2 separate regions of the Homo sapiens genome follow, and region 2 is linked to region 1. Evidence: fine-mapped expression QTL. A gene starts in region 1. The other region holds a variant in brackets. All regions are shown on one strand. Distances are between the middles of the regions. Region 1 holds the start of NEXN (nexilin F-actin binding protein). Region 2 overlaps MIGA1 (mitoguardin 1).

What was found. PIP is the estimated chance that this variant, and not a neighbour inherited with it, causes the effect.
Region 2: its variant is the best candidate, but not a certain one, in a credible set for the expression of NEXN in whole blood (INTERVAL, PIP 0.86).

The regions. Positions count from the first base shown.
Region 1 is chr1:77,885,963-77,890,962 of GRCh38, reverse strand. NEXN (nexilin F-actin binding protein) reads right to left here and starts at 2,339. Exons shown (of 13, transcript NM_144573.4): 1 at 2,204-2,339. It overlaps NEXN-AS1 (NEXN antisense RNA 1), which reads left to right and starts at 1,424. Exons shown (of 3, transcript NR_103535.1): 1 at 1,424-1,495; 2 at 1,695-3,363. RefSeq lists a silencer at 1,955-2,094 and an enhancer at 2,335-2,394.
Region 2 is chr1:77,863,130-77,868,653 of GRCh38, reverse strand. MIGA1 (mitoguardin 1) reads right to left here. Exons shown (of 16, transcript NM_001416120.1): 13 at 4,626-4,760; 14 at 2,263-2,316. Among named protein-coding and RNA genes, the nearest start is that of NEXN, 23 kb to the left of the region's middle. The variant G/A (reference allele first, on the strand shown) is at 3,113.

The sequences.
Region 1 (5,000 bases):
GTTAAGAATGTTATAAATCATTTTCTCTCCAAATTATAAACTACCAAGATGTTCTGTGTGTGTGTGGCCTACATAACTATAAAATAACAGTCCTCTCTTCTATAAAAACGTTTAGACTTTTACCTGTCTGTTACATACTTTTCCACATTCACTGCATTATTTTCTTTCTTTTAGGTGTGCACAACTCTCATATTTAAATAATCCCCCTTTTTTTTGTCTTTTAGGGTATTTCAAAGATAACAGGTATTTTTTTTAATAAATGAAGTATGTCATTATAGGCCGCTCAGATTCTAAGCAATCTGAATCCCCAATTAATGTCTTCCAAATATGCATATTTAGTTTTTATTCTGCTCAAAAATGAAACCCTAACCTAAATACTTCAAGTGAAATTTCAGGGGAAAAAGACTGTTCAAAAACCTAGATAATGCATTCCTTTGTTGATGCTAAATATAGTCATCTCAAGATGACATACATTTTGACAATGATCAGCCTTACATGTCAAATTTTCAAAAATAGCACAAATTCCATTTTAAGGTGAGCAGGAACAATTGCTATTCATTACATTTCAATTGAAAATGGATTTTAAAATATGAATCTTTTATTAAAACTGGATTACATTGTAACTATGATGAGGAAAACTGGATTTAAAATAATTTTGTTGTGGTTTTAGCTTAGAATTCTTTAAGGGAATTGCAGATAAACTACATAATTGCATGCATTTTTCTTTAAATTGTTCCTCAGAAGCATTAGTCAAAATATAAAATATCTGCAAAAATACGGTGTTAATTGTAAGGAAGAAGAAACTTAAACAGCTACATTGGTTAATCAAAGTTTACTTATACAAATTATACCTCCCCCCAAAAAACCTTTCTCTCATTTGATTAATTATGCATTTTTTCTTAACAATACCCCAAACTCAAAAGAATTTGAGACAAAGTTTTCTAACTGCAGCAGTTTAACCTGTAAAGGATAATGTTTAGCGGGGGAAATTATGTGGTCCACTCAATAACGTGTGACTAAGATATAAATAACGTGTGACTAAGATATGAACTTAAGTATAAATACTTAAGTTTATTTAATCACATTACCTAAGACATAGTTATGTTGTGACTCGAAGGCCAATGGGCCGCTGCTACATGAATTCATTAACAAAATTTAACGATGAATGATATTCCCGTTGTTTTGGTCAGGGAACTAATTTCTTTATTATGGCTTCTTTTCTCTACCTGTGTCTTCACCAAGGACATTTTGTTAGGACATATCCTTATGCTATTTTTACCTTGTTATCTCTCTGCCAACTTGGTTCACGTTGTGCTTTAATAACTATAAAATGAGCATCTCTAAGTCACTGCAGTAACCAACTATAACCTCTCAACTTCGTCATTTTCTTTATAAATGCCAATGCTAATGCATTTGTAGAACGTTTCACAATTTACAAACAGCTGGAATGGTTTGGCGTTTTCAAAAGCATATAGGCAAAGGGAGTTCTCAAGAGGTGACTACATTCTTCACTCACTTAAACTACGTAAACTTCGTAAACTTCCAGCCCTAGTTGCTCAACCCCCAGCATCCCACCTCGGGCAGAATCACGAAAAAAAAAAAAAAAAGGGTTGGAGACAGGAGTGGGGGGATATGCGGGGGTGTGGGGGGGGAGTAATAGGCTGTTAAATCATATTTCTCCCCATCTTCCACAGAGACCGATCAGAAAGGATTTCTTAACTGGCACTGCTGGCAGAGACGGAGACCGCGGCTGGGGCAAGTGGTGGGGGACGGCACTGAACTTCCCTAAGGACCCCAAGGGTTCAGCCGAGGGATCGGCACCCACTCCGCTCACAGAGGGCTCCCTCCCTACAGTAGGGAACGCACCCGAAACTCAGCCGACAAGGCGCAGGGGAGCAGGGCAAAGACATTGCAACCAGAAGCCCAAGGCCGGCCGACACTTTCAGACCCTGGGGCAGCCCCTGGTAGGCACCCCGCCGAGCCCGCAGGATGCGGCTCCAAGGCAGGGTTCGCCCGGGCCGGGGCCAGCGCGGACCACAGCTGTATGGCGCCCGGCGCCCTCCGGAGCTGCAGCGGAGCACGGCCAGAAGCCGCAGACCCCGAGCGCCTCTCTGCAGCCGCCGTTCCCGCCCCCGCCCCCACCAGGGGACCCGACACCTCCGTCTCCACTCCCCCCAGCCCACGTTCCCCCAACTCTTCTCACCCTGCAGGAGCCGGTGACCGGCGAAGGTACTTCTTTCCGCGTGGAGGGACTGTGCGCGTCCCGCCTGGCTGTGGGTAGGGGTCTGGGAGCTCTGGCCGCTAACACTTCTGCTCCAGCCGCTGGGAGTCCTCTGGCTGCCGCTGCCGCCGCCGCCGCCGCCGTCTCCAGCAGCAAGTTTCCATAAAAGTCCTGGTGTGCAGCCTGTTCCCGCATTCCAGGCGGGCCCAGCGCCGGCTGCAGCTGTTCCAAAACACAAGGCCAGTTCCCCCAACCCCCCACCTCCGCCGTTATCACCCGGAGTGGGGGTGGAGAGTTGAGGAGAAAAGCAGGGGAGGGGGACCGTGGCTGCCAACTTTCCGCCAGAATTTGTCTGTCTCCCGGCCCTAGGTGCGCGAGCTGACCCCCTAACTTTGGGCCTGCCTCCACCTCCAGCCAGGCCTGGGGAAGGAAGGCTGCCTCCGCCATGGGAAAGGAATGAGGCTGAAATGGGCTTCATTACCGGGCTGAAGCTGGCTCCCCCTACCCGCAACCAGTTTGCTCTGGGGCCCACTTCTCTCAGCTACTCTACCCGTCCTAGTTTCCAGTCAAGAAGCCAAGCCACTACATATCTTCTACTACCCTAAGCATTGACCTTTGGCCAAGTTTTCCTTTATTACAAAGAGCGTGGGGCAGCAATCCGGGAACACTTCATCTGTCTATTGCTCCCCTGTTCTTAGCTCCAGTCTTTAACTCTAAAAGGAGAGTTAAAAAAGAAGAAGAAGAAGAAGAAGAAGAAGAAGAAGAAGAAGAAGAAGAAGAAGAAGAAGAAGAAGAAGAAGAAGAAGAAGAAGAAGAAGAAGAAGAAGAAAGTTGAAGGCAGAGGAGGAGGAGGAGAAGAAAAGAAGGAATATATTTATATAAGTACAAATATCTTTATATTCCACCTTTTTCTTAATTGAAGGCAAACCATATCTGGTCTTTCTAAAGCTTCATAAAGGCATCTTTGACTATTAGACACCCACAGACCTTTTTCAACTTGGACCGCCAGCCTGTCAAACCCATCAGACAATACCATATTAAAACCCGAAATGCACACTCGGAGTATTTTTGGTGGACGAGATCTTTAATTCTTCACTGCACTTGAAAAAAAAATCGAAATGACATCCAGATAAAGAATAAAGGTAACCACTTCCACCTTCAGGCCCTAAGCAGACAGCGGTGCTCAGGTTATATTTCAGGGATGTTGAAAAGGCCTTCTGGGCTGGGCGCGGTGGCTCATGCCTGTGATCCCCGCACTTTGGGAGGCCGAGGCGGGTGGATCACTTGAGGTCAGGAATTCAAGACCAGCCTGACCAACATGGCAAAAGGCCGTCTTTACTAAAAATACAAAAAATTAGCCTAGTGTGGAGGCACACACCTGTAATCTGAGTTACTCAGGAGGCTGAGGCAGGAGAATCACTTGAAGCCAGGAGGCGGAGGTTGCAGTGAGCAGAGATCATCCCACTGCACTCCAGTCTGGGTGACAAAATGAGACTCTGTCTCCAAAAAAAAAAAAAAAGGCCGGGCGCGGTGGCTCCTGCCTGTAATCCCAGCACTTTGGGAGGCCAAGGCGGGTGGATCACCTGAGGTCAGGAGTTTGCGACCAGCCTGGCCAACATGGTGAAACTCTATCTCTACTAAAAATGCAAAAAATTAGCCGGGCGTGGTGACGTGCGCCTGTGATCCCAGCTACCTGGGAGGCTGAGGTTGAAGAACCCACTTCGCTTGAACCCGGGAGGCTGAGGTTGCTGTGAGCTGAGATGGCGCCATTGCACTCCAGCGTGAGCAACAAGAGTGAAACTCCCTCTCTCTCTCTGTTTCTCTCTCTCTCACACCCGTACACACAAAAGGCCTTCTACTCAAATATAACTCTGTTCCCCAGTCCCATCCCCACAGTATTTACTCAGGATGGAAACTTTTCTAAGGAGGGTAAGCCATTCATTCCTCGATTACAGAAAAGTTCAAAATTGGTAATTAAAATTATTTAAATGTACCGAACTACGGATAGTGATAGGTGGTCTTGGTAGTCTTGCTTGTGCCCTTGCTCTCTTTGATGCCATCACCTTGGCCTTCTTCAGTTCATGAAACTTTCTATGGGCAGTCTGGCTGCAGGGCCTTTGTATAAGTTGTTCCCTGCATGAAATCCTTTCTCCCACTTTCCCCTTCACCTAACTTCAACATATCCTCCCGATCTCTTCTTAAATGCTGCTTCCTCGGAGAAGGCTTCCTTGCATCCCACCTTTCTCCCCACCTTGCACCTCACCTTTCATCCCACCTTTCTCTTCCCTATATATATATATTCCTATTTATTTGCTTATTTATTTATTTATTTATTTATTTATTTATTTATTTATTTGGAGATGTAGTCTCGCTCCGTCGCCCAGGCTGGAGTGCAGTGGCACGATCTCAGCTCACTGCAACCTCCGCTTCCCCAGTTCAATCGATTCTCCTGACTCAAAAGTAGCTGGGATTACAGGCGCGTGCCACCACACCTGGCTACTTTTTGTATTTTTAGTGGAGATGGGGTTTCACCATGTTGGCCAGGCTGGTCTTGAACTCCTGCCCTCAAGTGATCCACCCACCTCGGCCTCGCAAAGTGCTGGGATTACAGGTGTGAGCCACTGTGCCCTGCCCCTATACATATCAATTTATAATTACATATTTATTTCTGTGATTTAAAGAAGTGAGTTGGCTGAGCATGGTGTCTCACGCCTGTAATCCCAGCACTTTGGGAGGCTGAAGCGGGTGGATCACTTGAGGTCAGGAGTTCGAGACCAGC
Region 2 (5,524 bases), 23 kb after region 1:
ATAATGTGAGCTGAGCTCAATGATGGGTAAGATTTATTTAAGTACAGAGGGAATTTGGCATTTCAGGTATAGGAAATAGTTCCTAAGAGGTGAGACATATAGGTATCTATGGATATAGAAAGTTATAGGTTGGGCGCAGTGGCTCAGGCCTGAAATCCCAGCACTTTGGGAGGCCAAGGCAGGTGGATGACTTGAAGCTGGGAGTTTGAGATTAGCCTGGCCAACATGATGAAACCCCATCTTTGCCAAAAATATACAAATTAGCCGGACATGGTGGCAAGCGCCTGTAATCCCAGCTACTTGAAAGGCTGAGGCAGAAGAATCGCTTGAACCTGGGAGGCAGAGGTTGTAGTGAGCTGAGATCATGCCATTGCACTCCAGCCTGGGCGACAGAGTGAGACTCCGTCTCAAAAAGAAAAAAAAGTACAATATTTATTCTAAGAAGTAGAAAAATAAAGTTAGACATGTTAATAATATATCATTATTATTATAACTACCACTTACTAAACTCTTTAAATGTTTAATGTTTAAATTAAGCTTGCTGATATCATCGCTTTCATCCTTACCGCAGTCCTATTAAGTAGGCATTAACACCATTTTGCAAATGGGAAAACTGAGGGTAAGCTGATGGTCAGTAACTTACTGTAATCATGCTAGCTAGTGTGAGAATCAAACCCATGTATACAAGTCTGTTCCTAGTCCTAACGTTAGAGTTCATCATCATCATTAAGGAAACCTGCTTAAAATATGGGTCTCTGGAATCATTTTAAATAAGAATTATTCAAATACAGGGGCTCCAGAATTATTTCTACCAGCACATTCTAAAGATGCTGTGAGGACTATACTTTAAAATCACTGCAACTGGCAATACTGTCTCAAAGTTATAAGATTGAAAAATATGGATATGATAAAATACTACAGGTCCTTGGGTAAATAATAATGTTGTAACAGTCAATACTTGCTTAATGCACTATGCCAAGCACTGTTCTAAGCACTTCACATTGAATCTTCAAGAAACCCTATGAGGGCTAGGCACAGTGGCTCACGCCTGTAATCCCAACACTTTGGGAGGCCGAGACTGGAAGATCACTTGAGGCCAGGAGTTTGAGGCCAGCCTGGGCAACACAGCAAGAGCTCATCTGTACACAAAAATAAAAAATCAGCCAGGCATGGTGGTGTGCACCTGTAGTCCTAGCAACTCAGGGAGGATGAGGCAGAAAGATTGCTTTAGCCCAGGAGTTATAGAGGCTGCAGTGAGCTATGATCATGCCACGGCACTCCAGCCTGAATGACAGAGCAAGACCCTATCTCTAAAACAAAACAAAACACTATGAGGTAGATACTATTACTATTCTATTTTTAGAGATAAGGAAACTGAGGCATAGAGAGGGTAAGCAACTTGCCTAAGGTCACATAGCTAGTATGTGGCATTTGAACCCAGTAGTCTCACTCCAGAGTCCTTGCCCTTTACTACTAGGAGTGTATGAGGAAAACAATGCTTAGCAGGTAAGACAGGTTACAGGGTGTGAGGCGTGAAGGCAGGATATAAACTCTGAGACTTTTTATTTGTAGGGGCTCCAAACTGAATAAAGCAGCTATTAGAATCAAATCTTTATTTCTTAATTGGATTAAACGAAGGGAATCCACTATATTAAAGAACTGTAAAAAAATACTGGCCAGGTGCAGTGGCTTACACCTGTAATCCCAGCACTTTGGGAGGCCAAGGCGGGCGGATAACCTGAGGTCAGGAGTTTGAGACCAGCCTGGCCAACATGGTGAAACCCCATCTCTACTAAAAATAAAAAAATTAGCCGGGTGTGGTGGCACCTACGGTCCCAGCTACTTGGGAAGCTGAGGCAGAAGAATCGCTTGAACCCGGGAAGCAAAGATTGCAGTGAGCCAGGATCGCGCCACCACACTCCAGCCTGGACAACAGAGACAGACTGTCTCAAAAAAAAAAAAAAAAAATTAATATCATTAAGAGAAAAAACAAAAACCTAAAACTTATCAGAGCTGTTTCCAACTCGAAACCCCTCTCCCAGTTAGCTGAAATACCATGCATGCCTCAATACTAAGGATGAGAAAGAAGGCCTTCAAAAAAGAAGCCAACCCACTACCAGTAAGTCACTCATCTAGCCTGAGGGACAGTCCCTCCTACCCCTCCTACAGCTGCCAATTCCCACCGGAGAAGTGACTCAGAAGCTGCTTTGACAGAATCCTTAAATGATTTAACAAAGGAATTCAGGACATAACGAATTTTACCTTCATCTGTTGTCTTTTCTGTTTCAGCACCGACCAACAACTTGAAGCCACAGCCTAAATACATGCAGAGAAAAGAAAGATTTATATATAGCTATATAAACATTTCCATTTTTATTAGAAATTCAAAGTTTATGGGTCTAAAACGTTCAATACATTCATTACTAATAAGAACTAGTCGGCCGGGCACAGTGGCTCACATCTGTAATCCCAGCACTTTGGGAAGCCGAGGCGGGTGGATCATGAGGTCAAGAGATGGAGACCATCCTGGCCAAGACGGTGAAACCCCATCTCTACTAAAAATGCAAAACAAAATTAGCTGGGCATGGTGGCGCATGCCTGTAGACCCAGATACTCGGGAGGCTGAGGCAGGAGAATTGCTTGAACCCGGGAGGCGGAGGTTATAGTAAACAGAGATCGCGCCACTGCACTCCAGCCTAGCGACAGAGCAAGACTTTGTCTCAAAACAAACAAACAAACAAAAAACAAAACTAGTCAGGGTCCTCACATTGTTTGAAAATATTAATGAAAAGGTATTTCATTTTTATAAATTTTTAAATCATGAGCAAAGTTGTATGTTGCAAGGGCAAAAAAAAAAAAGTAAAATAATATTTAAAAAATTAAACACAAAGCCACTAAAGGAAAAAGACTGCACTCTGGAACAAAGGAGATTCAATTTTCAGAGTTTTAAAGTTCTGTTCCTTAAGGGAAAAAAGTGAAAATATGTGTATATAGAATTCACATACACAAATAAATATTCTATGTGTAATAATAAAGTAATTTTTCTTCTTCTTTTTTTTTGAGACAGGGTTTCACTCCCATTGCCTAGGCTGAAGTGCAAAGGAGTGATCTC[G/A]GTTCACTGCAACCTCCGCCTCCAAGGCTCAAGTGAACCTCCCACCTCAGCCTCCTGAGTAACTGAAACCACAGGCACACACCACTGCACCTGGCAAATTTTTGTATTTTTTTTATAGAGACGAGGTGTCACTATGTTGCCCAGGCTGGTCTCAAACTCCTGAGCTCAAGTAATCGGCCTGCTTCGGCCTTCCAAAGTGCTGGGATTACAGGCATGAGTCACTGTACCTGGCCTAAAGTAATTTTTTTTCAAGAATAGTACTATTGGAATATTTGTGAATAGAGCTAACAGTTTGATCCAAATAAAGAACTAGGAAATACAACCATGACAGGACAAAAGCACCCAGTGGATCCTGAAGAAATCTGACCCTTGGAGGTGATTCCAGGAAGGAAAAAAAAAAAAAAGAAAGAAAAATCTGACCCCACTCTGGCATGACCCAGCTTTGATCAAGGTCACTTTACCAAATCAGTTACAGAAATGGAGAACATGTACCTTTTATTATTAAAACATACTTAATTGAGGCAAAATGAATTTATTTAAAATGCTTTTAAGTTTAATATCAGTAAGTTCCAAAATAATTGTGAAATTGCCAACTGGAACATTTTTTTAAAGGTATCCAAACTGCATCATAAAATATATCCACCCTACTTTGCTTCCAGGTGCACACTTAAAGCCCAACAAAAACCAATGTCAAACAGGTTTGAGAACAGAAAAGAACAGAAGCTGAAAAGAGAATTTCATCTGAAGATGTTATGCCGTATATGCCTGAGCTGAATATCAAAGGATGAGCTCAGTTTCCATACATTATTTCACAGACAGATGTATATGTAAATCTTAACAATCTACCCAGTTTTGACATTTTTTTGAGATAGAGTTGCACTCTTGTTGTCCAGGCTGGAGTGCAGCGGCACGATCTCGGCTTACTGCAACCTCTGCCTCCTGGGTTCAAGCGATTATTACACCTCAGCCTCCCGAGTAGCTGGGATTACAGGTGCCCACCACCATACCCAGCTAATTTTTGTATTTTTAAAAGAGACAGCCTTTCACCATGTTGGCCAGGCTGGTCTCGAACTCCTGACCTCAAATGATCCACTTGCCTCAGCCTCCCAAAGTGCTGAGATTACAGGTGTGAGCAACCGCGCCTGGCCAACCACTTTTTTGTTTGTTTGTTTGTTTATGAGACGGAGTTTTGCTTTTGTTGCCCAGGCTGGAATGCAATGGCTCAATCTCAGCTCACTGCACCTCCCAGGTTCAAGCAATTCTCCTGCCTCAGCCTCCCGAGTAGCTGGGATTACAGGTGCCCGCTACCATGCCCAGCTAATTTTTTTTTTTTTTGTATTTTTAGTAGAGATGGGGTTTCACCATGTTGGCCAGGCTGGTCTCAAACTCCTGACCTCAGGTGATCCGCCTGCCTTGGCCTCCCAAAGTGCTGGGATTACAGGCGTGAGCTACTGCGCCCAGCCTCACTTTTTAATCAAACTTAAAAGGCTGAGAAAGGTTAACCACCACTTACTGTTTCTTTGAAGGATGAGTTTAGCCATCGATTATTTACTACATTCTGTATGGATGTGGGTGGGTTTTCCAAATCTTCAAAGGAGTCCATTAATATAAAATCCAGAACAACATCATAAAAATTTAGATTTTTCACCTGCATTAAATTATGAGTTGAAACAGAAATTATTATTACATAGAGCTGAAATAAAATCTGAGCCAGGGCTTTATGGTTTTATAACAGCAGGGGTTTTTTTTAATCAGCTTATTCAAAAATAAAAAATAAAAGGAGAGATAAATATGAAAGCTCGCCACTAGAAATTACGAATTCACATTATCGCTGCTCCTTCCTAGATCTCAAGTGAAAATAATCTCTCCTCCTCTCTATTCTAGGAGTCCTTTGTTCACGCTTCTATTATAACATCCAGGATGCTCATTCTGCCTTGTTATTTAGTTACTGGTATATGTGCCTGTCTTCCCCACCAGATCATGAACATCTTGCTCTTTCATTCATTCATACATACACACTCTACATACTACATGCTGTACCAAGTGCTCAAACTTCTAGAGTAAGCAAATTAGACGCCTAGAGTATAGTGGGGAAAACAGCAACAAAATAATCCTGCAAATATCCAATTATGAACTGTGTGAAGCACAATAAAGGAAAAAGTATAGTGTGCTGTATCATTTTGGCAGAAATGTGGAGAATGAAACAGGGGAAAGAATGAATGCAGGGAGGAAAGGAGTGAGCAGGGAATCGGGAAATATAAAGACTACTGATGTAGCCCAGAGAAAAGACAACAGGCACTTAGGCCAAGAGGGGTGACAGAAAGAGAGAAAAGTCGAAGAAACTGAAAGATATTTAGGAGTTAAAACTGACAAAATTAGAGATGAATATGATAAAATGGGTGAGCATCAGGG